Linked DNA regions of Homo sapiens. The protein of the gene in region 1 binds, or shares a complex with, the protein of each later gene. Each region holds a gene or a part of one and is shown on either strand. Other genes may lie near its edges. The genes, in order: MED19, MED13, MED12 and MED4.

Region 1 (6,032 bases):
TTATTTTTAGTGGAGACAGGGTTTCTCCCTGTTGGTCAGGCAGATCTCAAACTCCCAACCTCAGGTGATCCGCCCACCTTGGCCTCCCAGAGTGCCAGGATTACAGGCGTGAGCCACTGCGCCCAGCCTCCCAGATGCCTTTCATTGTCTCAAGTCTTATTTCCACATCATGACTTGAGGGAAATAGCAACAAATATTGGTATAGTACTTTGAAGTTCACAACACACTTACATGCAGTATTTAATATAAGTAGTATTTAATACTTAGAATAGCCCTTTGAGGTAGCATTACTGTCTACATTTTATAATTGAAAAAACTGAAACATGGAGAAGTTGACATCCCTTTGATTAGTTAGTGGTTGATGTCCACCAGCGGTTTCTTTTAATCTTTCTTTTGCCTTCCCTATTCTGATTGTAGCTATTTGTATCAGTCAGTTGACAGATATTGAATATATGTTCTGGGCAAATGCTGGGTGTATGAGGCGGGTGAGATGGAGAGAGAGATTAGTAATGCTGGTCATTGCTTTTCAAGGAGTTTAGTTAGGAATGTAAAATTTGTGGTTTAAGGATAGTGACTATATTTCCTGTCACCTCCATCTCATTTTGTGCTCATGCCTCACAACAGCAATTAACAATATCTTAGCCATCAATATTAAGAACTACCTAATGGTTTTCAAAGTGTGTTGCTATCCAGAATGACAGTGAGAATAAGATGTCACTTGAGCTAGACCTTGAATAATCCATATTGGTGAAGAAAAATTAGGAAGAATTTTCCTAAGATGAAATAATGTGAGGGGTGTTTTTTTGAGGCGATAAGGAGATCCATTTGGATGGATCAGAAATTTTGCATAGGAGAGTAGTGGTTGATGAGGCCCCAAAGCTAAGTTGGAGTAAGATGTAATTAGCCTTGAGTGCCAGTCAAAGGAATTTGAGCTTTCTCCTGAGGGCAAAAAGAAACCATTAAGATTTGTGAACTGAGGAGTACTGATTTCCAAAAATATCTGGAACATGTGGGTGCCATGGATTGAAATAGAGAAGCCCTGAGTGATGTTGGCAAGATTTGGAATTTCAAAACAATTTTTTTTTTTTTTATCTTGTTGGGCAGGGTGGTTCACGCCTGTAATCCTAGCACTTTGGGAGGCTGAGGCAGGCAGATAGCTTGAGTCCAGGAGTTCAAGACCAGCCTGGGCAACATAGGGAGACCCCTGTCTCTACAAAAAATACAAAAATTAGCCTAGCATGGCAGTGTATGCATGTAGTCCCAGCTACCTGGGAGGCTGAGGCAGGAAAGTAGTTTGAGCCCAGGATGCAGAGATTGCAGTGAGCTAAGATTGTGCCATTACACTCCAGCCTGGGTGACAGAGCGAGACTGTCTCAAAAAATAAATAAATATAAAAAGTAATCTTTGTAGAATAGTCAAAACTGGAATTTGAACTCTCAAGTTACAGTTTAGAAAAAGCACAGACTGCCTTCTCACCTGAGCCTTAAGGATAACCATCTGGACAGAGGAGAGTTGGCAGAGCAGGGGAAATTCAGAAGATTGTAATGGCAAGAGGCAGTGCCCAGAGTTATGAGGAGAGATACTGTGACATTGGGTCTCCTGCCATTACCCTCGCTCAGTCTTCTGAGTTGTTTGGTAGTAAAGGGAAGGAAAAGGATGAATAAGGCCTAGAGGTATAGAGGGAAAGTGCCTTGTTTATTTAATAAATATTTATTAAGCACCTAATGTGTGTACTGTGCTGGGCACTAGCGATACATGAATGAACAAGACATTGTCTGTGCCTCCAAGGAGCTTACAGTTCAGTACCTCAGTTTTCCCAAGTGAATGATTATAAACAAGCCATTTTTGTCATTTGTACCCTCTGTGTCTATCATAATTACAAATGAAGTTGTAGTTAGCTATTTCTACCCTTGCTAGTAGGTCCTTATTAAGTTACTAATAAATGTATATTTTTTAAAAAAGAATCAGCCATGCAATATTTATATGGATAGTGCCTTGCATACATATAATACTTTTTTTTTTTTTTTTTTGAGATGGAATCTGACTCTCCCACCCAGGCTGGAGTGCAGTGGTGCAAACTCAGCTCACTGCAACTTCCACCTCCCGGGTTCAAGCAGTTCTTCTGCCTCAGCCTCCCAAGTAGCTGTGACTACAGGCGCATGCCACCACACCCAGCTAATTTTTGTATTTTTAGTAGAGATGGGGTTTCACCATATTGGCCAGGCTGGTCTCAAACTCCTGACCTCAGGTGATCTGCCTGCCTTGGCCTCCCAAAGTGCTGGGATTACAGGCATGAACCACTGTGCCAAGCCTGATACTTTATGCTTTTCAGCATATTTTCATTTGAACCTTGGGAGAAAATTATGTGTATGTAAGATAGCTATTATTCCATTCCACAGATAAGAGGAAACTGAGGCATGGAAGACAGCCAGAATAATTCTAGTTGCCTGACTTGTTTTTTTGTTTTTGTTGTTTTGTTTTGTTTTGTTTTTTTTGAGACAGGGTCTCACTCTCTCACCCAAACTGGAGTGCAGTGGCCTGATCTCAGCTCACTGCAACCTCCGCCTCGCAGGGATTACAGGTGTGTGCCACTACTGTCCAGCTAATTTTTGTATTTTTAGTAGAGACAGGGTTTCACCATGTTGGCCAGGCTGGTCTTGAACTCCTGACCTCAAATGAGCTGCCCGCCTTGGCCTCCTGAAGTGCTGGGATTACAGGCGTGAGCCACCGCGCCTGGCCATTAGTTGACTGACTTCTAATCAAACATTTCTTCCTGGATGCGTGCTGTGGCTCACACCTGTAATCCCGGCACTTTGGAAAACCGAGGCGGCGGGGGGTGGCGGATCACTTGAGGTCAGAAGTTCAAGACCAGCCTACTCAACATGGTGAACCCCCTTCTCTACTAGAAAAAAATTAGCCAGGCATGGTGGTGTGTGCCTGTGATCCCAGCTACTTGGGAGGCTGAGGTGGGAGAATCACTTGAACCTAGGAGGCGGAGGTTGCAGTGAGCCAAGATCGTACCCCACTGCACTCCAGCCTAGGCGACAGAGCAAAACTCCCGTCTCAAAAACAAAAAACATTTATTCCTTTTAGGCAAGGCATCATACTCAGTATCACGAGGAAGAATAAAGATGTTGGTAACAAGTTAGGCAGTGGTAGCTAGAAAAAAATCTCCCAGTTCTTTTCTTATGTAAAGGTGATTAGTGTTTCTTGCTAGTAAAAAAAAAAAAAAGTCCTTGACAAGACCCTTAAGTCACTGGGTCATATTTGGCCCCCTGAGCATGGTTGTAGCTGAGCTGCAAGGTCGTATTTTCCTAGCTGTGTCAGAGAATATAATTTTTCACTAATACATTTTATGAGAAACACTCAGAACAGCATTTACCACGAAGCAAGCATCATATAAATCAACTCCAGTTAATCTTAAGAGAGTGGAGTGTCTCCTTCATTGGGCTAGAGCAGTTCCTGTCTCTGCCCTATTGGATTTTTGCCTGTTTTTCCCCTTCCCATTGGAACCTACCATTGTGTTGTATTATACTTTTCATGTTATTTACTTTTGCTGTTTTTTTTTTTTTTTTTGAGACAGAGTCTCGCTGTTGTCCAGGCTGGAGTGCAGTGGCGCAATCTCAGCTCACTGCAACCTCCACCTCCCGGGTTCAAGTGATTGTCCTGCCCCAGCCTCCTGAGTAGTTGGGACTACAGGCACGTGCTACCACGCCTGGCTAATTTTTTGTATTTTTACTAGAGACGGAGTTTCACCGTGTTGTTAGCCAGGATGGTCTCGATCTCCTGACCTGGTGATCCACCCGCCTCAGCCTCCCAAAGTTCTGGGATTACAGGCATGAGCCACTGCATCCGGCCTGCTCTGTTTCTTTAAAAATAAATTTTAAATTTTAAAATCTGCACTTAAAAAATGTCTTATTTAGGTTAATATATAGTCCTTCACTCCCTGGGTCTACTTTGAAGACTGATCTTTTTTATTTTTATTCTGCGTTGTCTAGGTAGCACAGAGCTGACAGGCAGCACGAATCTGATCACACACTACAACTTGGAACAAGCCTATAATAAATTCTGTGGGAAGAAGGTGAAGGAGAAGCTAAGTAACTTCCTGCCTGACCTGCCAGGGATGATTGATCTGCCTGGTTCCCATGATAACAGCAGCCTCCGCTCTCTCATTGAGAAGCCCCCTATTCTCAGTAGCTCTTTCAATCCTATCACAGGGACCATGCTGGCCGGCTTCCGCCTCCACACTGGCCCGGTGAGTCCTGTTGGAGGAAGAAGGCAAATGGGGAGGCCTAAACATGGAGATGGTTTTTCTCTCCAAGTCTGTTCCTTCATAATGGAGCAGAATGGATGATAAGAGCAGGAGAGATTTCCTCCCTCTACTCACCTGGACCTTCCTTTGGTTCCTTCAGTTGCCGGAGCAGTGTCGTCTGATGCATATTCAGCCTCCCAAGAAGAAGAATAAGCACAAGCACAAACAGAGCCGTACCCAGGATCCTGTCCCCCCAGGTAAGAAGCAGTTCTATTCAAAGCAAAAAAAAAAAAAAAAAAAAAAAAACCTGACCTTCTGAATCTGGTTTGAACTTCCATAGGTAAACCCAGTTAAGTTCCGTATGGAGCTCTGGACTCCTAAATTCCCCTGAAGAAGAAACCAATGTACTGTGGTCTCTTGGGACTTGGGACAGGGACTCTAGCAGCACCTCTGTATCCTTTCTGGCCATTTGGACAAAAGCAGTTGCCCCGACTTGGGATTTTCCTGTAGTCTTCAGTGGTTCATAACAGTAGAGGATTTTGAGCTTTACAGGTGATAGGTACCTAATGTCTCCTACAGAAACACCATCTGATTCAGATCACAAGAAGAAGAAAAAGAAAAAAGAAGAGGATCCTGAACGGAAAAGGAAGAAGAAAGAGAAGAAGAAAAAGAAGGTAGAGTAGAGGCCTATTGCCACAACCCAGTGAGTTTCCCCAGATCTCACCCCTGTCCTAAATACCCTAGAGTTCTTTGCCTCAAGTTGGACCCAAGATTGAAAACCCAAGGCAGGTTGCAGGTTTCTCCTGTACAGCCTGATCAAAGCCAAGGCTAGTTCCTAGTTGTTCTTACCCTGCTTCTTTCTCCCCCAGAATCGACATAGTCCAGACCACCCAGGTATGGGCAGCTCCCAGGCCAGCAGCAGCAGCAGCCTACGCTAATAGGACCACTGGACTCTTTGCCAGGATGGCTTTTCCTGCTGTACTGAACCTGCTGATAAAAGCTGCCTTCCAGGCTCTTGGACACTGCCTTGGGAGCATCCTGCAGCTGGGACAGAGGCCAGCTCCTGTTGGGCTCAGTTGAGACTAAGTAAATTAGGAGAGAGAGGGACATGCTTTTGTAGGCTCATCCCAGTTGGTTTTCTCATGGACATCTCTTCCTCTCCCAGGAAGCTTACAATTTTCTTCTCTCTCTTTTGTGCAATTTGTCTGATTTAGGACTTGTTCTGTGTTTTCTTTAAAAAAAAAAAAATTACATTTATCAAACTGGCTGAAGTGTGACTGCCTGTTAAGAGGTATGTGCCTTTCTGTGAATCAGGATTTAAGACAAGGCATTCCTAAGACTTGAGGGGATTTGGGTCTTGTCATTACATGATCTCACTAGCAGGCAGGGAACCAACCAAAATGAAAAGTGACCCAAGCTTACTAATACTCCACAGCAGACACGTAACACTCTGCCCATTATGTTGAGAACCAAGCGCCTCGGTGATCTCAGGCTCCATCTGAAGAGCTGATCCAGGTAGGGCTCAACAGTGTATTCTAGGTCAATTTTGTGTCGAAAGAGAATAGCCAACTGAAAACACATGGACAGTCACCCATGTGTTTCAACAAGATTGGTTCTTTAGGTCAGAAGCCTGTGATCTTTTGAGATGAACTTCTGGCAAGCAAAGGTAAAGCTTCCCTTCTCTTTACAAGAACTTTTGACCTGCTTCGGTCCTTAGTTAAGACAATAAAGTTATTTAGCTGATGTGAAAACATTTCTAAAACAGCAACAAAATGTAGCC
Region 2 (7,026 bases), on another chromosome or scaffold:
TCCCAGCTACTCAGGAGGCTGAGGCATGAGAATCACCTGAGCCCAAGAGATGGGAGTTGCAGTGAGCTGAGATCACACCACTGCACTCCACTGTGGGCGACATAGCGAGACTCTGACTCAAAAAAACAAAAAAAAAAACCTTTGCAATAGTAAAAGCTAAAGCACAATTTATAAATTTTCACATGAAATTCTGAAAATTTTATGGTTTTATTTTGTAAAATCTATTTTAGTTAAACTTGCAGTCAAATGATTTAAGAATATTTAATGTGAGGCCATGTGCGGTGGCTCATGCCTATAATCCCAGCACTTTGGGAGGTCGAGGCAGGTGGATCATCTGAGGTCAGGAGTTCAAGACCAGCCTGGCCAACATAGTGAAACCCCATCTCTACTAAAAATACAAAACTTAGCTGGGCGAGATGGCATGCACCTGTAGTCCCAGCTATCCGGGAGGCTGAGGCAGGAGAATCACTTGAACTGGGTGGCAGAGGCTGCAGTAAACCGAGATCACGCCACTGCACTCCAGCCTGGTGACAGAGCAAGACTCCATCTCAAAAAAAAAAAGAATATTGAATGTGGTTTAGAAAAGTAATCAGTATTAATCTTGAAGCATTTCTCCCTCATTATTCTAATGCTTTCAGAGGGGGTGGGCATCTTATGTCCCCAGTGCCCACAATTCTCATTAACACTAAATAGGAGCTATGCATAAAACAAACAAGTAGAGACCACCTGTTGAGGTTTTCTAAATCCAACGTATCTCTGAAGTATGTCCTCATCTATATGGCAAGCAACTAAGCAACCATTACACTAAAGTAATATAATTTCATATTTTGTTGCTGAGAAAAACGAGAGTAAGTCCTAATAACGCTCAATAAAGTCTGAAGGTTTTTGGTTTTGTTGGGAATCACTTAGAAACAAGAAGCCTACTGAGCCAAGTTTCTAATATCCTGACAATCTAATAACTGTAATAAAAGTACTTTCTACACGTTGTATTCAGATACGAAAAGTGAAATGGTACAACCAACCCACTCAAGGCATAGTGATATGCACTATTTACACTAATTGAAACAAGTTCTTGAATCTCAACACCAGCATTATAATAGGGAGGGGAAGGAGAAGGGAACATATGGCAAATCTTTACCTATCTCTTTTGAACTTAACCAGAGCCTAATAGAAAAAGTCTGCTTAATCTATATAACTATTTTCCTCCTCTAGCCAGGTGCAATGACTCATGCCTGTAATCCCAGCTACTTGGGAAGCTAAGACAGAAGGATCACTTGAAGCTAGGAGTTCAAGACTAGCCTGGCAATACAGGAAGACCCTGACTCCAAAAAACTTTTTTTAGTTAGTAGGGCATAGTGGCAATGCCTGTAGGCCCAGCTGCTGGGGAAGCTGAGGTGGGAGGATTGCTTGAGTCCAGGAGTCGGAGGCTGCAGTGAGCTATGATTAAGCACTGCAGGCTGAGTGAGACAAAGTGTGACCTCCATCCCTACAAAAAAAAGAAAAAAAAATTCCTTCTCTTGTAGCTCTATGTCCAGAGAAAATAAAGTTCAACTCTGCATTCTTAGTACTTTTCTGTTACTATTAGCATTACAGTTCTTAATCATCAGTGTTTCTTGAAATTTTTATGGACTATTTATTGGAAGAAAACACAAATGCTAAATTTGATTACCATATTTTTTTCCTGAAGATGCAGATTACAGTAGTGCCAAAGTATGTGATAAGTCATCAAAATAATTCTCTATCAATGGGGAAAAAAAATCACAACCAAAAAAGCAGACACACCCTGCACTCAACATTTTTCTCAAAAAAATGGCATCTTTAAATATCTCCACGGTGGTAAAAAATGAATCTTCTCCAATACAATTTTGCAAAACTATTAAAATGTAACATATGCTAATGAATAATGGCTCAAAAATTAACATGGTAGAAAATACCATGTATTTCCTGAAATAAAGAGAAATGTTTAAATGCTAGATCAGTGTTTCTCCTGAATAATCATTAATAACCTATACATTCAACAAATATACCGAGAGCCTTAAGTTGGCCGCATCATTATCTATGGCAAAACTTGAAAACTGATTTAAAAACAGCCTAGTATGTTATGTTTGGCTTGAAAACTTAGAAGATACACTTGATCAAAAAAACAGTATGCAGAAGAAATACAGCAAATGAAGTTGTCACCTAGGAGACTAGCCAATTTAAAGAGTCGGGCCACATCACAAGTAAATTTTACAATAGTAGAAATAAATTACTCTCTTTAGACTATGTGGGGCACACAACAATGTTTTAGTTTGGCTGGGACTAGATTCCTATGCCTGGCTGTTTATCTATCTGTCAATCCTATTAACAGCTGTCATTTAAGGTTAAAGTCCACTACAGTTAATATCCTTCAATTAAAACATCCAAAATTAAATTCAGAACAATAGTCCACTTAGTTTGAGCACTATTCATTATGATAAAATTCTGGTATAATAAAACTATCTGAACATGTTACTAAAATCTACTTTACAGACCTCAGGAGCCAGGAAAAAGAACAAATATTTTTAGCCCTGAGTTTTTTTAGTTCACAAGGTATCAGTTTTCTCAAAGAGTCTCATCACAGTCTAACTTGCTATGATTTTTTTAAGATGACAAATGGGAGAGGACGCAGTGTTTGCTTTTATTTTTATTTAAAGGGAAAGAATAAAAGCCAATGATGACAGCAATTGAATTCCAAAAATGTTAGAACACAGAATAAAAATACACAGAAAACTCTCCTTCAAGACCACATTAATGAAAATGATACAATCTTGCTCTGAAGCAAATTAACAGTACACTTAAAAGTACCAGTCCTACCCACCACAGAGATTCTTGACCAGAGGGACTGAGCTAAGATTTTCCCATCACCCATTTTATACCTCTTTCACCCACTATCACACAACCACTAAACAAAGCTACAAAATACAATTTTTAAAAAAAAGGGGCCAGGCATGGTGGCTCATGCCTGTAATCCCAGCACTTGGGGAGGCTGAGGCGGGCAGATCACCTGAGGCCAGGAGTTCCAGACCAGCCTGGCCAACATGGCGAAACTCCTATTAAAATCTCTACCAAAAATACAAAAATTAGCCAGGCGTGATGACACATGCCTGTAGTCCCAACTACTCGGGAGGCTGAGGCAGAAGGATCGCTTGAACCTGGGAGGCGGAGGTCGCAGTGAGCCAAGATCGCCCCACTACACTCCAGCCTGGGAGACAGAGCGAGACTTCATCTCAAAAAAAAAAAAAAAAAAAAAAGAAAGAAAGAAAGAAAAAAGCTGTAACCCCAAAGGAGTTTTATTCCCTAATCCTTTTTGTATCAAAACATATCGACCCCGATTCAACTAATCATTATCCTATAGAGGATAAAGCAAAAAGTAAGAAAATCATCTATGTTTGGCTTTGGAATTCAAGAGATTTTTTGAACAAATAACCTTCTGGAATGTTATAGTTTGGCTAATACTAGTTAGCACAAATCCTGATCCAAAAATCATCCAGCCTTTGCAAATTACTTTGCTCAACGGTATTGACTTACTGCTACAAAATGAGTAACTGAGGGTTTAAAGTATGTATTAAATCAGACGTGATTTGCTGTAACTGATCTTTGCCAGTTAGCAATAAAATAAGTTTACATTCTATTTCTACACATCAGCTAAACTTGAAAGGAAGGTAACCCAAACAAATGCTAAGTGACATAAGAGAAAATGAAATTTAAAATGCACTATGGAATCTGAACAGATTCTTCAGAACTGTCGAAATCATCAAAACCAAAGAAAGTCTGAGAAACTGTCACAGTCTAACAAAGCCTAAGGAGACATGACAATTAAATGTAATAGGGGTATCTTAAATGAGATCCTAGAAAAGAAAAACATATTAGGCAAAAAAATAAAGGAAATCCAAATATATACTTTAGTTAATAATAAAGTATCAATATTGGTTCATTAGTTAATTTTTAAAAATACACTGCATGACACAAAGGAGCTAAGGGGGTTAAACAAAGGCAATTCTGTATTTCTGTTACTGAATATTCCAGTTAAGAAAAACTGAGAATTCTAATCTTTGAAAAAAGAAATGCTTTCCCTCTTCCCTCACTACCAAGAAAAACAAGGGCAATATTATCACCATAATAAAAAACACTTCAGTAACAAGATGTGGTGTGTGCTGAACCAAACAGAAGGACACTGCCTGTGAAGAGCAGGCTCAAGCTAAATTAACCAGCTTTTTAGTTACCACCTGGGTCCTTCCGGTACCCCATTCCTCAGTGCTACACCTCCACTTGGAACTCAGGACTGCCTCCAGCAGCTGATGCTACCCTGTACTGTCCAGCTGCTCTCTTCTCAGGGGAGCTTAGAAGAAGGAAATAGAGTGCCACAGATGGAAGAAATGAAAAAGGGGTTAGCTAGAGAGACAGAGGCAGACTAATTACCCCAAGAGGGAGGTAGACGCTGTCCCTAGAGCAAAGAAAAGGGCAAGACAAATATATTCCATCTGAAAAAACCTTATTATGCTTTAAGATACGTCTGATTTAAGTAACAACATTCTTAAGTAAATAACAGGTTTTATTTTTAAGAAAAGCTAAAATATTATATAAATAACACTGACTATGCAAACTAAAACAGTACAGGACAAGCTTTGGAACAATAAATATGATCATATACCACTCCTAATTGTATTTCAGTTTATTATTTCAATCACTTCACTTTGATAAATTTTTAAGTTATTTACGGCCAGGTGCAGTGACTCACGCCTGTAATCCTAGCACTTTGGGAGGCCGAGGCGGGTGGACTGTCTGCGCTCAGGAGTTCGAGACCAGCCTGGCGAACACGGTGAAACCCCATCTCTACTAAAAATACAAAAAATTAGCCGAGTGTGGCAGCATGTGCCTGTAATCCCAGCTACTCGGGAGGCTGAGACAGGAGAATCGCTTGAACCCAGGAGGTGGAGGTTGCAGTGAGCTGAGATTGCGCCACTGCACTCCAGCCTGGGCGACAAAGCAAGACTCCATCTCAAAAAAAAAGCTATTTACCATTCATTAGCATTCAGTAAAGTCTGACAGCAGTTAAAACCCTACCTCCTGCCTGTAATCCCAGCAGTTTGGGAGGCCAAGGCTGGCGGATCACAAGCTCAGGAGATCGAGACCATCCTGTCTAACAGTGAAACCCCGTCTCTATTAAAAATACAAAAAATTAGCCGGGCGTGGTGGTGGGCGCCTGTAGTCCCAGGTACTCAGGAGGCTGAGGTAGTAGGAGTATGGCATGAACCCAGGAGGCAGAGCTTGCAGCAAGCAAGCTCCACTGCACTCAGAGAGCGAGATCACGCCACTGCACTCCAGCCCGCGGGACAGAATGAGACTCCGTCTCAAAAAAAAAAAAAAAACCAACCTCCCAAAATTATTTTCATTCACGTTCAAGATCACTATCTATTTTTTTTTTTGAGACAGAGTCTCACTCTGTCGCCCAGGCTGGAGTGCAGTGGCAAGATCTCGGCTCACTGCAACCTCCGCCTCCTGGGATCAAGCAATTCTCCTGCCTCAGCCTACTGAGTAGCTGGAACTACAGGTGCGTGCCACCATGCCCAGCTAATTTTTGTGTCTTCAGTAGAGATGGGGTTTCACCATGTTGGCCAGGATGGTCTCTATCTCCTGACCCTGCGATCTGCCTGCCTCAGCCTCCCAAAAGTGCTGGGATTACAGGCGTGAGTGAGCCATGGCACCCAGCTGATCACTATTTTAAAGGTACAAGTAACTACCATTTTTGAAAATTACGCTAAAAATCAAAGCTAGAGAAAAATGTTTAAGACTGTAACCTAGTTTCAGTGGAGAAAACATATCTGACTGGTAACATGAAACCTAGAAGACAAAACTGACTTTTAACAATATCCATCAAAGCAGCTCACATCTAACTTTAATAGTCTTTTAACTTTCACAATATTTTTTCTATTACGGTAAAACTAGGCCAGGTGCAGGGGCTCACACTTGTAATCCCAGCACTTTGGGAGGTTAAGATGGAAGGATCACTAGAGTTCAGGAGTTCAAGACCAGCCTGGTCAACACAGCAAGACCCCATCTCTACTTAAAAAGAAAAAAAGAAAAAAAAAATTAAACATTATGTATCTCTTAAAATTATCTTTGATTCTACAAAGTGTATTTCATGGAATCTTAAAAAAAGATCTGTTTAGTCTGTTTAGATGCTCTGCCAACTTTATTAAGAAGACCAAAGCCCCTAAGTCACCATTATAGTTTTATCAATAATTATGTTTTATCAACAAATATATTTTATCAATAGTTTATAGTTTTTCAACAATGTTATACAGTCTCCAAACATTCTAGTAAGGTGATTTTTATGACCACTTAACGATTAAAATAACTCAAATACTATATCCAAAACAATGAAAGAAAAAGGAGGCTGGCGGACTTAGCTTTTGGCATAATTAGAAAGTATTGTCTCGCTAAAACTACCATATATACATACATCATGTATATGTACATATATGTATATACATATACACATCACTTTACACATTTAGAACTACATTAAATACACACAACTAAGGACTGGACTCTGCAGCAGGCATCTTATTAGAAAAACTACAAAAGCTGGAAAGCTTTCTTGAAGAATTGCAGTCACTCTCAAAAATAACAATTAACACTGGAGAGTATGTTCATTAGAATGTGAAAAGCAATTATCAAAACATACAAATGTAACACGTACATTCCTACATAAATGTTGGTCTTACTAAGTACCAGTTCAAGATACAGACACCTAGAATACATTCTATCCAAAAATAAAATAGATCCTATAGGTCAGAGATACAATAACAAAAACTTCAGAGTACTCAATTTCAAATAAGAACTTAAAAAAAATTATCTAGAAATCCTAAGTTTATCTGTCAAAAATCATTATCAAACTATCTTACTGAAGTCTTTGGAACCTTATAGCATACAACCAATCATTTATATTCCTATTATCTAAGATTCAGTTAATACTGACTTTCACAATTTAAAGCTTCAGTA
Region 3 (7,026 bases), on another chromosome or scaffold:
CGACAGAGCAAGACTCCGTCTCAAAAAAAAAGAAAAAAAGAAATTTTAGAGTGTAAGGTAAACAGGGGAGATGATCAGAATAGAATGAAGACTCTGACTTGTTGGTCCAACCCCCTGCATTCTCCCAAGAGACCACCCTTCCCAGACATGCAGAACTCGCACACTCCCTTTGCAAAGAAGCTCTGTGTATTGGGTGCAACAGCTCTGGGGTCTCTATATAAATAATATACAAAACCCAACAGCTCAATGCCTCACATTAACAAAAATACTAAAAACTTATTAAAAATGGAGCCTGAGGGGAGGGCCCCAACCACTACTGGTGCTAGCCCAGGAATGGGATTGGGAATTAAGAGGAAAGGGTGGGGCCACATCCAGTGCACAAGCAGTTCCTCCAGGTGGCTCAGTAGCGTCCAAATATGTTGGTACTGGGCTGTGGCTGGGTATCTGTGAAAAACCAGAGATTATCAGGGATGGAAGACCAGGCAGGGGTGTGGGTATGCACGAGGAAAGCTGTTCAGGTATCGAGGGAAGGGGATGGAATGGAATGCCTCCTCTCATAACCTGGGCCTGAAGCTATCGTTTCAGCTACTTTGGCCCACCCCGCCCCCTAAATTTATTCCATGGGGTTCTCCTTGGGAAGGCAGGCAGGCTTACTAGAGAGCTGTTGTTGAAGTTGCCGGACCAAAGCTGCTGTCTGTTGCTGCTGCTGGGTCTGCTGAAGCCCCTGGCGCTGGAACTGGGTGGAAATAGGAAGTGGAAGACTGAAGTCGAACTTTTCTCCTTCTTCAACCTCCTTTCCCAATCCGTTTTTTTTTTTGAGATGGAGTCTCGCTCTGTCCCCCAGGCTGGAGTGCAGTGGCATGATCTTGGCTCACTGCAACCTCTGCCTCCCAAGTTCAAGCAATTCTCTGCCTCAGCCTCTTGAGTAGCTGAGATAACAGGCACCTGCCACCATGCCCGGCTTATTTATTATTATTATTTTTTGTATTTTTAGTAGAGACGGGGTTTCACCATCTTGGCCAGGCTGGTCTTGAACTCCTGACCTCAAGTGATCCACCTGCCTTGGCCTCCCAAAGTGCTGGGATTACAGGCGTGAGCCACTGCGCCTGGCCTCCCAATCCATTTTTAGGGTGCCATGCCCTGCCTCCCACCTCTACCCTATTCCATACTGTCCCCAACCCAGTTCACTGGCTGCGTGCCCAACCTGGGCAGCTGTCCCTGAGCCTGGGGCTGTAGTCCAGCAGCTACCTGGGGCTGGGACTGGGGCTGGGGTTGGGGAGGAGCCGCCTGTTGCTGCTGTTGCTGCTGGTGTTGCTGTTGTTGCTGTTGCTGCTGCTGCTGTTGCTGTTGCTGCTGCTGCTGCTGCTGCTGTTGCTGTTGCTGCTGCTGCTATAAGAACACAAAAGATACTTCAGAAGGAGCAGAGGGAGGAAGCTAAGCCTCAGAACTAAAGGGCTGAGGGCAGGGGATGAGGAAGCAGGGTGGGAGCTCGGGGTCTACTGCCTTCCCTTTTTAGACAGCTGCACAGAAAGAAACCAAATCTAGGGTACCCAGCAGACAATGTCCAACTCTCTCCCACTATGATCCCCAGAAAACAAAAAGGGGGAGGGTAGAAAACTTCTCCAGCACCACTAGAGGCCAGCCGCTCTGCTAGGTGTTTTGGTACACTGCCTTGTTTAGTCTCGGTAACTGTGTGGGAAGAACTTGTGCCTCTCTTCCTCCCTGGGCTCCCAGGTCCCAGATGAAATCCCAGTGCCTTACCCGCAGGATCTGCTGCTGCTGCTGCTGCCGGATGTGGTACTGCTGCTGCTGCTGCTGCTGTTGCTGTTGCTGCTGCTGCTGCTGTTGCTGTTGCTGCTGTTGCTGCTGCTGCTGCTGCTCAGGTAGGATGGCTGTTGAACGGACGCCTGCCTGGACGCCCTGGGCACTCATTGGAGTCATGGTACTTATCATGGGTGTCTGCTGCAGTGTCTGGTGTGAAAACCTCCAAAGATAAGAGGGTCAGAGGTCAAGGCATGAGGGAGGTGAGGAGAGGGGGTCAGTATAAACCTTGGGTCCCTGACCTGAAAGAAACGTTAGCAGGTTATTTCATTCATTCCTCGTGTCACTAACCAGACTTCCAGTCTGGGGAATAAGTTGCATAAGATGATACTCTATTTTAGTGTCTCATAACCTTAATGGTTAGGAATTTTTCAATTCTGCATTAGCTATTTTTCTGTTACAAAAATGAAAAATAGGGCTGGGTGCGGTGGCTCACACCTGTAATCCCAGCACTTTGGGAGGCTAAGGTGGGTGGATCACTTGAGGTCAGGAGTTCTAGACCAGCCTGGCAACATGGTGAAACCCCATCTCTAGCAAAAATACAAAAAAAAATAGCTGAGCGTGGTAGTGGATGCCTGTAATCCCAGCTACTCAGGAGGCTGAGGCAGGAGAATTGCTTGAACCTGGGAGGTGGAAGTTGCAGTGAGCCAAGATTGCACCACTGCACTCCAGCCTGGATGACAGAGCGAGACTCCATCTCAAAAAAAAAAAAAAAAAGAAAGAAAAGAAAAGAAAAAAATAGTCTTAGCACAAGATAGGCATTCTATAAACACTCATTGAGGTTTTTTGCTGTTGCTGTTGTTGTTCCCAAATAACATTTCAAGTTGTTCTACCACATGTGTATATCACTTCAAGAGTCTACTGGCCAGGCTCCCCGTCTCAAGTCTTCTTTTTTTTTTGAGACAGAGTCTCACTCTGTTGCCCAGGCTGGAGTGCAATGATGCGATCTCGGCTCACTGCAACCTCCACCTCTCAGGTTCAAGTGATTCTCTTGCCTCAGCCCCCCAAGTAGCTGGGATTACAGGCACATGCCACCACACCCAGATAATTTTTGTATTTTTAGTAGAGACGGGATTTCACCATGTTGACCAGGCTGGTCTCGAACTCCTGATCTTAGGTGATCTGCCTGCCTGGGCCTCCCAAAGTACTGGGATTACAGGCATGAGCCACCGTGCCTGGCCTGAAGTCTTCTTCTTGCACCTTCCAGTACACATCCTATCCATTCATTCCAAGGAACCTTGCAACATACCCAACTCCTCCTATCACTCTTCTGATCAAAAGAGCCCTTTCTGGGACTGCGTCTCAATTCTTCGGCTGAGCATTCAAGGCCATCTCTCAGCCTGCCCCCTCCTAGCCTAGCCCCAGTGACTTCCCCAGCACAGATTTTACACTCCATCCAGGCCCTTCTCCCCAGGCACCATCCTCATTCTGGTCCCCATGTCTTTGTTCACGTTACATCCTCTACCTGGAATGCCCTTTCTTTTCCTCTTCTCCACAAATCCCAATCACAGCTATTCTTCAGAGGCCAACTCAAGTCTGACCTCCTTCATGAAACATTCTCTGATGAGTCAGGCCCACAGATATTACCACGTACTTTTTCTCAATCCACATTTTACCTCATAGCATACAACTGCATACCTGATTATATCTTTGCTCAGAGTGTTCTCTCAATATTCTTCTATAAGTCTCATCTCCCCAGCTATAGTAAAGATTCTTTGTAGTGAGGAACTATGTATCGTGGGGGTTTTTTTTGCTATCTTTCTTCACCTCACCCAGTCCTGGTATAGTGCTGGCCACACAATGGGCAGTTAGCCCACTCCCCAGTGTTCTTAATCCTAAGCTTCAGAGTCTCTATACATGGTTACAAGGCCTCAACTAAGGCTTGACTAACGTTAACCATGGTGGGAGGATTCATTCATTTGTCCATCCTGGTATTTAACCTGGTATTCAAAGCCGGTACTGGCTTTACGACTCCTTATCATGTAGTTCATCTATGAACTCCAGATATTTTTTTCTTTTTCTTTTCTTTCTTCTTTTTTTTTTGAGACAGGGTCTCACTCTGTCACCACTGGAGTGCTGTGGCACAATCTCGGCTCATTGTGCGATTACAGCTCACTGCAGCCTCAAACTCCCAAGCTCAAGCAATCTTCCCACCTCAGCCTCCTGAGTAGCTGGGACTACAGGCATGCACCAACACGCCTGTCTAATTAAAAAAAAATTTTTTTTTGGCCAGGTGTGGTGGCTCAGTTCAAGACCAGCCTGGGCAACATGGCGAAACCCCATCTCAACTAAAAATCCAAAAAATTAGCTGGGCGTGGTGGTGTGTGCCTGTAGTTCTAGCTACTTGGGAGGCTGAGGTAGGAGGATCACCTGAGCCTCAGAGGTCGAGGCTGCAGTGAGCCATGATCATGCCACGACACTCCAGCCTGGGCAAATGGAGTGCGACTCTGTTTCAAAAAAATATGTATTTTTTTTGTAGAGATGGGATCTCCCTATGTTGCCCAGGCTGGCCTCGAATTCCTGGAATCAACTGATTCTCCCACCTTGGGCCCCCAAGTGCTGGGACTACCAGTGTGAGCTACCACACCCAGCCCAGATTTTTCCTTGAGTCAGATAAACAATTTCCCCTCTCTGGGCCTCAAAGAACTGTTAAGGAAGTAGTCATGAAACTATTGGTCTCCAGGGTCCCTTCCAGCTCGAGACTTCTGTGGTTATGGGCTATGTGGCCAGATAAGTATTCTTGATGTCTCCGAAAGTTCTGACCAGTCCCACCACTTTCAGGCACAGGCTTTCCCAAGTCAAATGCTCCCTTATACCTCTGCATCTCTTCCTAGCTCACCACTACTTTGGGTACCTTTGAGTGGAGGTCAGTCCATGTCCATAGGTGGGGGCCTGCTGGTGCACATAGCCACTGGGCCGCTGTTGCAGGTGGCGGGTAGGATCTACAAGAGTAGGATTGGTAGAAGGGTGGGTGCTCTGGTAAGGCTGGCTGGAGTAGCTGGGGGGCACCATGGTACCTGCAGGGCCTGTGTGTTGCTGCAATCCCACATGAGAAACATAAGGAGTATAGCCCTGGAGGGAAGAAGGAGAGAGGGAATCAGGGCCGAGAGTATGCAGAGCAGCTTGCCTCATCCCCCTAGTCTCACAATCCCAGGCTCTTACCTGGGAAGTCTGCAAACCGTAGGAAGAGCTGGGAGTCATCTGATGGACAGATGACTGTCCCAACATGCCCTGACTCTGCTAAAGGGAGAAAAGAGAACAACTCAAACTCAGGAAATGCTTGCTGCCATCTCATCTCTTGTGTCTCCCACCCTGAGTGTCCTTGTGAAGATCCCAAGTGTCTCCTCCGTCCTGTGACCCTCAAAAGCCCCTCTCCCTGACAGCCCTCCCTACTGCCCCTCTCACTATCTTTGCCTGGAGCTGTTGGCGAAGGCGCTGTCCTTGGGGCACCGCAGGTTGCTGCTGCCGGTACACAGAGGTCTTATAAGAGGAGGGTTCTAAACCCATGACGCCAGTCATGGTTGTGGGCAGCACTCCAGGGTAAGTTGGTCGGGTGGGCAGCTTCTGCATTGGTAAGCGCACAGGACGGTATGGGTCCACACGAGGGCCACCTGAAAAGGAGAGTGGGCTGACCTCTAGGCTCCTCATCCCTCTGTCTCTTGCTCAGTGTCCTTGACATCCATAGCTCCTCAGGGGAATGGCATCATCCTTTGGGCAGGGGGAGTGTACAGGTAGGTCCCTCCAGCATTCCTAGTGGCTGGCACTCACCTGCAGGTAGTGGCTGGTTCTGGGTGTACAGGCCTATGGAGCCTTGCCTGTAGTTAAGGTGTGTTATAGAACCAGGGTTTGGGTGGTGCAGGAGGTCCGGAGGCACTGTCACACCATAAGGGCCGCTCCGACCCGGGCCCATTCCATAGTCCTGTGTGAGTGGCAGAGGAAGAGGGTGAGTGGGTTGTAGCTGAATGGGGTCGGGGAGCTGGGGGAGAATGAGGTAAAGAGGAGCTGAATTCGTATATGGTTAATTTTTATTATGATTCTAATGGCACCCCTTCCTTATGCGCCCCCACCCCTCCCACAAACCAGAAACCGGAGCGTCATGAAGTGAGAGGCTGTGGGAGAACTGTCACGGGGGAGGCGCTCACCTCTGTCTTGGTAGCTGGCTGGCTGCGTTTCTTGCCCTTGGTGGACTTCTTCTTGCGTTCCTCAGTACTGGGTGGAGCAGCCCCCGGTTTGTCAGTTTTGGGGGGCTCTGGAGCCTTTTTCTCAGGCTCTAGCAGGGTAGGAGCAGGCGGCTCCTCATCTTCTGGGGGCAGTGGCAGTGGCTCCAGGTAATAGGCGCGGGGCCGGGGCCTCAGGTGTGTGTGGTAGAGCAGCAACCGCTGCTGCTCCTCTCCTCGAGCCACTCGCCGGTCCACTCGGACTGTTCCAAACCAGCCCCAAGAGAGTGGTGCTGACGGCTTCAACCCCTCAAAAAGATCCCAGGGCGAGATCTTCTGTTTGGTGGAAACCTGTAGACCCTGCTCCAGAAAATGAAAAACAATAAGCTGTTGGGACTTAGAAAACAGAAGACTGCAAGCATTTGTAGGAATGGGTAGAAAGAAAGTCATAGGCAGATTCAGGAGAGATGGTAAGAAGCAGACAGACAGACATGGATACACATATACATGCGGAAGAGAGTTATGCGGGGAGAGAGTGAAGGGTGGGGCACAGGGAGAGGTGTGGAGGCACAAGATGAAGCCAGCCCAGACCAGGAGAGGAGATGAACTAACGGGGCGGGGGGCGTGTGGGGAGAGAAGATCGGGAGAGAAAGGGGTTGGGGAGAAAGCCAGAGAGGGAGCGGGGAGGGAGAGGGATTGACATTCAGAGGAAGACAGAAAAAGGAAGGCAGAGAAAGAGAGAGAGGAAGGCAGGGAGAGACTCTGCCTTTAGGCAGGCCGAGAAAGAGTCAGAGAGAGAAAGAAACAGGAAGAGAGAGACAAAAAGGTGGAGAGACAAAGAAAGGCAAACGAGTCAGACAGGGAGAGAGACAGAGACGGAGGAAAAGAGACAGATGGACTAGGAAGACAGATGAAGAGAATGTATATATGAAGGAGTTAGACTTTGGGTTTTAAACTATACACAATAATTATGGTTACTCAACAAATACCGCAACTGACAGAGAGGGAAAAGATAAAAGTGTGCAGAGATGGGTGGGTGTAGGGAAAC
Region 4 (7,807 bases), on another chromosome or scaffold:
CATTCTTTTTTTATTTTTTATTTTTTGAGATGGAGTTTTGCTCTTGTTGCCCAGGCTGGAGTGCAATGGCGCGATCTCGGCTCACCCCAACCTCCACCTCCCGGGTTCAAAGAATTCTCCTGCCTCAGCCTCCCTAGCAGCTGGGATTACAGGCATGTGCCACCACGCCCGGCTAATTTTGTATTTTTTTTTTAGTACAGATGGGGTTTCTCCCTGTTGGTCAGGCTGGTCTCGAAATCCCGACCACAGGTGATCCGCCGGCCTCGGCCTCCCAAAGTGCTGGGATTACAGGCATGAGCCACTGCGCCCGGCCTAGTGTTTCATTCTAAATGCAATGAGAAGCCACTGGGTTATTTTAAACAGGGAAATGGCATGACCTGATTTATACTTTTAAAAACTGTTGAGTGATCTGGTAAATAGACTGTAAGAGGGCCAGAACAGGAAGTAAGTTAGGTGGTTTCTGTAGTGTTCCAGGCAAAAAATGACACTGGTTTTGACGAGGTTATAGCCTCCAGGACTTAGTAATCGTGATGGGAGAAACATGGACAGATTTCAGATATCTTTTGGAGGTAGAGCTAACAGGACTTGCTGATGGATCAACAGCGTATGAAAACAGCATGTTAAGTAAACTTTTTAGTGTACGCCACAAGTGAGACATAGACGGTTGAGAACCTCTGGTCTAAGTAAAAGCTGGTTTCAGGTGGGGCAGGAGTGGTGCTGACTAGAGTGGGGCTATGGTAGGAGATGTGGGATAAGCCTTCCTCTGTTCTTGCAAATCTGGGAGCGTGAGTCCACAGAAGGCTTTACAAGGCTTGCCTTAGGCGCCGGAGTAGAGGGGAGGTAGAAGTCTCTAAGACTTAGTCATGTTCTGTAACAGTCCAGGACAAAATAGAAACCCCTGTCCTCCCCAACTGCGAAAAAGAGGCCAAAGGAAGCCCCCACACTCAAGAGCCCTGTCCTGCTAAAAAGAAGGTGCATTCCCAGCATACTGCATTAGAATCCAGACACAATTCCCCATAGAAATAAAATTTCCATAGCGGTTAGAGCCTACATTATTAGCAGTAATACACTTTTCAGGTAAACAGAATTAACAGGCTGGTGTGGAAAACTCAAGATTCCTATCAACATGGTTCTGTGGAACAATGAGTTTTGAGTTACAAATGGGTTAAAAAAAACGTTTAGCCTACAACCTGTGTTTCAACTTTTTAAGACTATCTCCTTGCATTACATTTTATAAACTAATAAATATCCCGAAAGGCTATATAATCAGGTTAATAGAAAAAAAAAGATCCTAAGTTATAAATCCACTATTTTTAAAGAGGCTAAATCTAAAAATATGTAAGGTATATTCGTGATTTTTCTTCTCATTTTCATAAATGCAAGCCAGACACAAATTACATTCAGAGACTGACAAACTTCACAGATCACAGAATCAGTACACATAACTACCTCTGAGTGAACACATGAGACCTTTCTGGAAGCCAGTCACACCACCAGAGCAGCTTCATTCTGTGAAGAAGTTCCAATGATCCGCCCGCCTTGGCCTCCCAAAGTGCTCGGATTATAGGCGTGAGCCACCACACCCGGCCCTAATACAGTTTATTTTAAACAGTGGATCAAACACATAAGCCATTTAATTTCTGCTGTCTAGGTGTTTTCGGGTTTTCTTCCATCATTAAATATTGTGCTGACCTGGTAACTTGGTAGCAATACGATGGCAAGGACTAAATTTACACCAAAAATAAAGTGCTGATTATATCACGTATATTTTAAAATACAACAGGTAAGATTTATTCTAAAGCTGTCAAAGAATGTTGGCTATAGAAAAAGTGACATTTGAGCTGGATTCTGAAGGATATATGAATCATTCACCAAATCGGGAGTAGACTGGGAATGGCACTGAAGATGTGGAAGTCTGACTAAAGAATTTGAACTTTACCTCACTGGACAACGCAAACCTACCAATGAGGTAGCTTTTATATAATTTTTCTGCAGAAAAGTGATATAAGATGCCTTTTAAAACTGGTATCGGCCAATATAAAAGGATAAAGTGCAGAAGCATGAGGCAATTAAAACTGTTTGGGAGGCTACATTTAAGAAGGAGTTATGAACAGCGGGGTTGGAACGAGAGGGCAAATTGGAGCGACACTTTAGGAGGTAGAACCAAGATAATTTACCATCCAAGTCAATGGGAGGGAGTCAAGGAAGGCTTCAACTTGAAAGACTTATCATGAAAGGTGACAGAATATGAAGAACGACATCTAATTTCATCTCCTATCTCTGACACACAACCATCCTAAACAACTTGCAACTCCACCAAGCCAGGCTTTTTGCACTTGCTGTTCCATCTATCTGTGCTGCCTAGTGAGTTTGGCGAGCTCATGCTTCCCAAGCAGCACTTTCTTCAGAGGGCCTGCCCTGACTACAACCAAAAAAGGTGCCTAGTCCCTGTGCTCCAGTACCCCGCAGCGCAGCCCTCTAATAAAAACAGGCCCCAAGCCAGTTTACACATCTGTCTCTCTCTCGACAGCTGGCATCCAGTCTACCCTTCACTACCGTCTCCCCAATGCTGAGCCCCCAAGGAGCGTTCCATAAATGTTAAGTGGCTGGCCGCGGACGAAGAGGCTCAGACCGCGCGAGTTCTTATCATTACTAAAATTCCCTCTAACGGGAAAAACCGCCGCCCAGAGTGCCAGAGGGCTGCGGACCCCACGTCCATGACCCTCATGCACCCGAAACTCCCGAGCTGGCCCTCCCCGCCGAACCCCGAGAACGAGCACAAACGCAGGGCCGGCCGGCTCCGGGGTCAGTCCCCCGGCCCAGCTCCAGCCCGGCTCTCAGGCTCGCCGCATTACCTAGACAGGACCTCCAAGTCCTCAAGCGCAGACAGCAGCCGCTCTCGTGTGCTGTTACCACCCGCCACTCCCAAACCGCCTCCCAGCCGCTCCTTCTCCTTCTCACCACTCGAAGACGCAGCCATTTTCCCCAGAGTCCCGCCACCGGCGCACGCGCAGAGCGAGCTGACGCAGGTGCGTGGCGAGAAGGCGGGCTCGGAAGGCGGAAGAGTCACCCAGGAGAGGAAAAAGAGGCCTGGCGAGAGCGCCCCCTTTGGGCCTGGAGGCGCACTGCGGACACCGGCGCCATCTGTTGGGCCGGCGAGGGCTTTCTGGTCCAAACCCTGGGAGCGACAGCTGAACTGAGAACAGTGGGGGCAACGCAGTCTGATTCTCCTGGGCCTAATGGTTTTTTTTCTTTCTTTCTTTCTTTTTTTTTTTTTGAGACGAGTCTCGCTCTGTTGCCCAGACTGGAGTGCATCGCCGCGGATGTCTTGGCTCACTGCAAGTTCCGCCTCCTGGGTTCACGCCATTTTTCCTGCCTCAGCCTCCCGAGTAGCTGGGACTACAGGCGACCGCCACCACGCCCGGCTAATTTTTTGTATTTTTAGTAGAGACGGGGTTTCACCTTGTTAGCCAGGATGGTCTCAATCTCCTGACCTCGTGATCCGCCTGCCTCAGCCTCCCAAAGTGGTGGAATTACAGGCGTGAGCCACCGCACCCGGCCCACCTTAACCATTTTTAAGTGGATAGTTCAGTGGCATTAAATACATTCATACTGTTGAGCAACTATCCATCTCCAAAACCTTTTATCTTGTAAAACAAACTCTGTACTCACTAAATGCTAACTCCTTATCCCTCCCTTCTCCAGGCCCTGGCAACCACCATTCTACTTTCCATTGCTGTAAGTTTGGCTACTCTAGGTACCTCATATAAGCAGAATCATACAGTATTTGTCTTTTTGTGTCTGGCTTATGTCACTCAGCATTATGTCCTCCAGGTTCATCCATGATGTAGCATGTGCTGGAATATCTTTCCTTTTTAAGACTAATATTCCATTGTATGCATATGGCACCTTTTGTTCATCCATTCATCTGACGATGGACAGTTAGGTTACTTCCACATTGCTATAATCCATCTTTATAGCCATACATCTTCCAACAAAATGTTTTGCTCATTACTCAGGTTAATTATTGAACTGAAGGAACCAATACAGTACATAAGTAGTAGTTAATTAACATAGTTTAAGTCATTGATGTACCACACATTCCAAACCAGAACTGGTTGTCAAAGGCAAAAATACGTCTTAGCCTACTTTTCCTAGGGATAACAATGTAGTAGGGATCACTCTCTACCAGAAAAAAGCAAAGTTACAAGCCTATTGGGAATGAGGATTCCATATTGCTATTATAAAAGATGGTCTGGGACTGCCTCACTCCCATGAGGTAGTAGTACCTGTAGTCCTTTCATTTCAGGGTCTCATCCTCTACTCTGTCTTTTTGGAGGTGCTAAACCTGACTCCTGGGCACCCAGAGTTGACAAGTCTTTTAGAAATTCATGTTAAATAAATTCACTCATAGCAACTGCTGCGTAATCTAGAATGCTGATTTACTCACTTACGATGAAAAGTAATAGTGCCAAACATATCTTTTTCCCATAGACAAAACTATATGAGAAGCCATATTATCACAGGATGTTGCTTGTTAAACTTGGATCAGAACAAACAAGGATAGATTAAAAATTAATGACACAATCATGAGGCTTTGTGTCTCCACAGTGTAGGGATATTTGTGTTCAAGAGATTGGATTATTTGTGTTCATAGGTCAGGGTACCTTTTCCTCTAGACAGTGCAAGAGATCCTTGTCACCTTTTGTTTTCTGACCGTTCCCTGCATCTGCTGTTGGCTAACCCTTTTTTGTTAATGCAGTCAATTCTCAGGCAATGGGCTAAAGTAGATTGAAGCTTTGTTCATTACACTTGCATTCTAAACATGCCTCTCAGTACTCTAGTCAATCATTTCTTATGTTAAGTTTCCAGGGTGCCAAACTTCTGCGGTATGTGTTGGTTTTGTTTACTCAACTCTCACGGGTCATATTGAGCCATGACTCTGGTAGGAGGAGAGAGAACATTATATTAGTGTAAACATAAAAATTCTAGAAGGATTCTAATTAGTTAAAAATGACCAATTATAGTCCTACTTTGCAGACACTGAGGATCAGTGTGTGGAGCATGTATGTGTATTGTGAACTCCTGACCTCCTCAGATTTATTGCAAATTCATATGCATATTAAACAGTTTCTATAGACTGATAAGTAATAGCATCTTTCACAGATATACTGTCTTGCAAATTGTACAAATCCAGGCGTGATAAACAAATATGAATTATTTTATATAGTATTACTGAATTCATGGTAATTTGGAGTTAGGTACATATTTTCTCAATCTGTAGATTCAAAAAGGACACTACTTTCTCATGAAATTTTATTGACATGGTGGGCAGTGTTCTAAGCACTTCAAAAATATTAACTTGTTTAATTTTCCTAACACTCCTATGAGGTAAGTACTGTTACTATCCCTATGTTACAGATAATGAAACTGAGGGGCAGAAATGTTAAGACACATGCCGGGGTCATATAGTAAATGGCAAAGCTGGAATCTGAACCCAGAGTCTGGCTCCAGGGTCTGTGCTCTTTACCACTGGTTATCCCAGCTCTCTGTAAAGAAAGAAGGATATTCAGGTACTAAAAGGACTGGGAACCTCTGACCTAAAATATGAGAGGACTTCAAAAAGTTCATGGAAAAATGGAATTAAAAGATAATAATTTAAAATATAAACTTTATTTCTCAACATAAGCTCCATCTAGTTCAAGACACTTTTGTAAATGACGATACCAGCCATTTAGTTCATCCCTAAATAAATGAGGGCCCTTGGAATTTAACCGTGTCAATGCTGTCTTTTTTACTTTTTTCTTTTCTTTTTTTTTTTGCCACAGGGTCTCACTCTCTGTCACTCAGGCTGGAGGGCAGTGGTGCAACCACAGCTCACTGCAACCTTGACCTCCCAGGCTCAAGCAATCCTCCCAATACATTATTAACTGAAGAAAAATGAGTGCCCTTTACAGATTTTATTTATTTATTTAGTTTTGAGACAGAGTCTTGCTCTGTTGTCTTGCTCAAGCTGGAGTGCAGTGGCACAATCTTGGCTCACTGCAACCTCCACCTCCCGGGTTCAAGTGATTCTCCTGTCTCAGCCTCCCGAGTAGCTGGGATTACAGGCATGTGCCACCATGCCTAGCTAATTTTTGTATTTTTAGTAGAGATGGGGTTTTGCCATGATGGCCAGGCTGGTCTCAAACTCCTGACCTCAAGTGATCCACCCCCCTCGGCCTCCCAAAGTGCTGGGACTACAGGCATGAGACACTGAGCCTGGCCCAGATTTTTTTAAGATTAGGAAACAAAAAGAAGTCAGATCAGGACTGTAAGGTGGATGTTCAATGATTTCCCATTGAAACATTTCCAAAATTGTCCTTGTTTGATGAGAGGAATGAGCAGGAGTATTGTTGTGGTGGAGAAGGACTCTCCGGTGAAGCTTTCTCGGGTGTTTTTCTGCTAAAGCTTTTGCTAACTTTCTCAAAACACTCTCATAATAAGCCATTGTTATCATTCTTTGGCTTTCCAGAAAGTCACCAGACAAAATGCCTTGAGCATCCCAAAAACTGTTGCCATGCTGTTTGATCTTGACTGGTCTGCTTTTGCTTTGACTGGACCACTTCCACCTCTTGATAGCCATTGCTTCGATTTTGCTTTATCATCAGGATTGTGCTGGTAAAGCCATTTTTCATCTCCTGTTACAGCTCTTCAAAGAAGTGCCTCAGGATCTTGATCTCACTTGTTTAAAATTTCCATTGAATGCCCTGCTCTTGTCTGCAGGTGATTTGGGCATAACAGTTTTGGCATCCATTGATTGGAAAGTTTGCTCAACTTTAGTTTTTGAGTCAGAATTGTATAGGCTGAACAAATTGAGATGTCTATAGTGTTGTCTATTAATTGCTTGTCCTCTGCAATTAGGGCACAAACAAGATAAATATTTTCCTTGCAAATTGATGTGGATGGTCTGCTGCTGCAGGCTTTATCTTCAACATCATCTCATCCCTTCTTCAAATGAGTTTTCTATTTGTAAAACTGCTGATTTCTTTAGGGCATTGTCCTCATAAACTTTTCATAAAGCATCAAGATTTCACCATTCTTCCACACAAGCTTCACCATCAATTTGATATTCTTGCTTCAATTTTAGTAGAATTCATATTGTTCTGATAGGGGCTCTTGTCAAACTGATGTCTTATCCTTCTTGTGCCTCAAACTAGATCCTGTTCATACATGTTATAACAAGTTAGTATGACTTTATTTTGGTGGAAAAATATTTTGAAATGCATCTATAGTTTTTCTATAATACACACTTTTCATGAACTTTTTGAAGAACCCCTCATACAAACACTATCAAATAAATGCACAGCTTGAAATTCTGAGCAAAAAGCAGCTGCAAGCAGTTGGTGTGGAGGTTTGGAGGTGCAGCGAGAAACTCAACCAAGGCTGTCCCTAAGGGTAGGCGGAATAGATAGCTGAATACACTATGTATCTTTAAAAAAATTTTTTTAATTTTATTATTATATTTTTGAGACAGAGTCTTGCTCTGTCACCTAGGCTGGAGTGCAGTGGCACGATCTCAGCTCACTACAACCTCCACCTCCCAGGTTCAAGCAATTCTCCTGCCTCAGCCTCCCAAGTAGCTGGGATTACAGGCATGTGCCACCATGCCTGGCTAATTTTTGTATTTTTAGTAGAGATGGGGTTTCGCCATGTTGGCCAGGCTGGTCTCGAACTCCTGACCTCAGGTGATCTGCCCGCCTTGGCCTCTCAAAATGCTGGGATTATAGGCAGGAGCCACTATGCTTGGCCTATTTTATTTTTTTAA

Evidence for each region.
Region 2: MED19 (region 1) and MED13 share a complex: the UniProt entries of both Homo sapiens proteins name them as parts of the mediator complex.
Region 3: MED19 (region 1) and MED12 share a complex: the UniProt entries of both Homo sapiens proteins name them as parts of the mediator complex.
Region 4: MED19 (region 1) and MED4 share a complex: the UniProt entries of both Homo sapiens proteins name them as parts of the mediator complex.

The regions. Positions count from the first base shown.
Region 1 is NC_000011.10:57,703,196-57,709,227, reverse strand, and holds the end of MED19 (mediator of RNA polymerase II transcription subunit 19), read left to right. Parts: intron 1-3,998; coding exon 3,999-4,255; intron 4,256-4,412; coding exon 4,413-4,509; intron 4,510-4,592; coding exon of another isoform or gene 4,593-4,606; exon of another isoform or gene 4,607-4,831; coding exon 4,832-4,926; exon of another isoform or gene 4,927-5,121; coding exon 5,122-5,190; 3' UTR 5,191-5,518; downstream 5,519-6,032. UniProt on the Homo sapiens protein: Component of the Mediator complex, a coactivator involved in the regulated transcription of nearly all RNA polymerase II-dependent genes.
Region 2 is NC_000017.11:62,055,271-62,062,296, forward strand, and holds part of MED13 (mediator of RNA polymerase II transcription subunit 13), read right to left. Parts: intron 1-7,026. UniProt on the Homo sapiens protein: Component of the Mediator complex, a coactivator involved in the regulated transcription of nearly all RNA polymerase II-dependent genes.
Region 3 is NC_000023.11:71,135,593-71,142,618, reverse strand, and holds the end of MED12 (mediator of RNA polymerase II transcription subunit 12), read right to left. Parts: intron 6,339-7,026; coding exon 5,964-6,338; intron 5,741-5,963; coding exon 5,590-5,740; intron 5,433-5,589; coding exon 5,236-5,432; coding exon of another isoform or gene 5,227-5,235; intron 5,062-5,226; coding exon 4,984-5,061; coding exon of another isoform or gene 4,894-4,983; coding exon 4,676-4,893; intron 1,985-4,675; coding exon 1,762-1,984; coding exon of another isoform or gene 1,651-1,761; exon of another isoform or gene 1,390-1,650; coding exon 1,249-1,389; intron 737-1,248; coding exon 655-736; intron 445-654; coding exon 401-444; 3' UTR 169-400; downstream 1-168. UniProt on the Homo sapiens protein: Component of the Mediator complex, a coactivator involved in the regulated transcription of nearly all RNA polymerase II-dependent genes.
Region 4 is NC_000013.11:48,092,099-48,099,905, forward strand, and holds the start of MED4 (mediator of RNA polymerase II transcription subunit 4), read right to left. Parts: upstream 3,007-7,807; 5' UTR 2,981-3,006; coding exon 2,856-2,980; intron 1-2,855. UniProt on the Homo sapiens protein: Component of the Mediator complex, a coactivator involved in the regulated transcription of nearly all RNA polymerase II-dependent genes.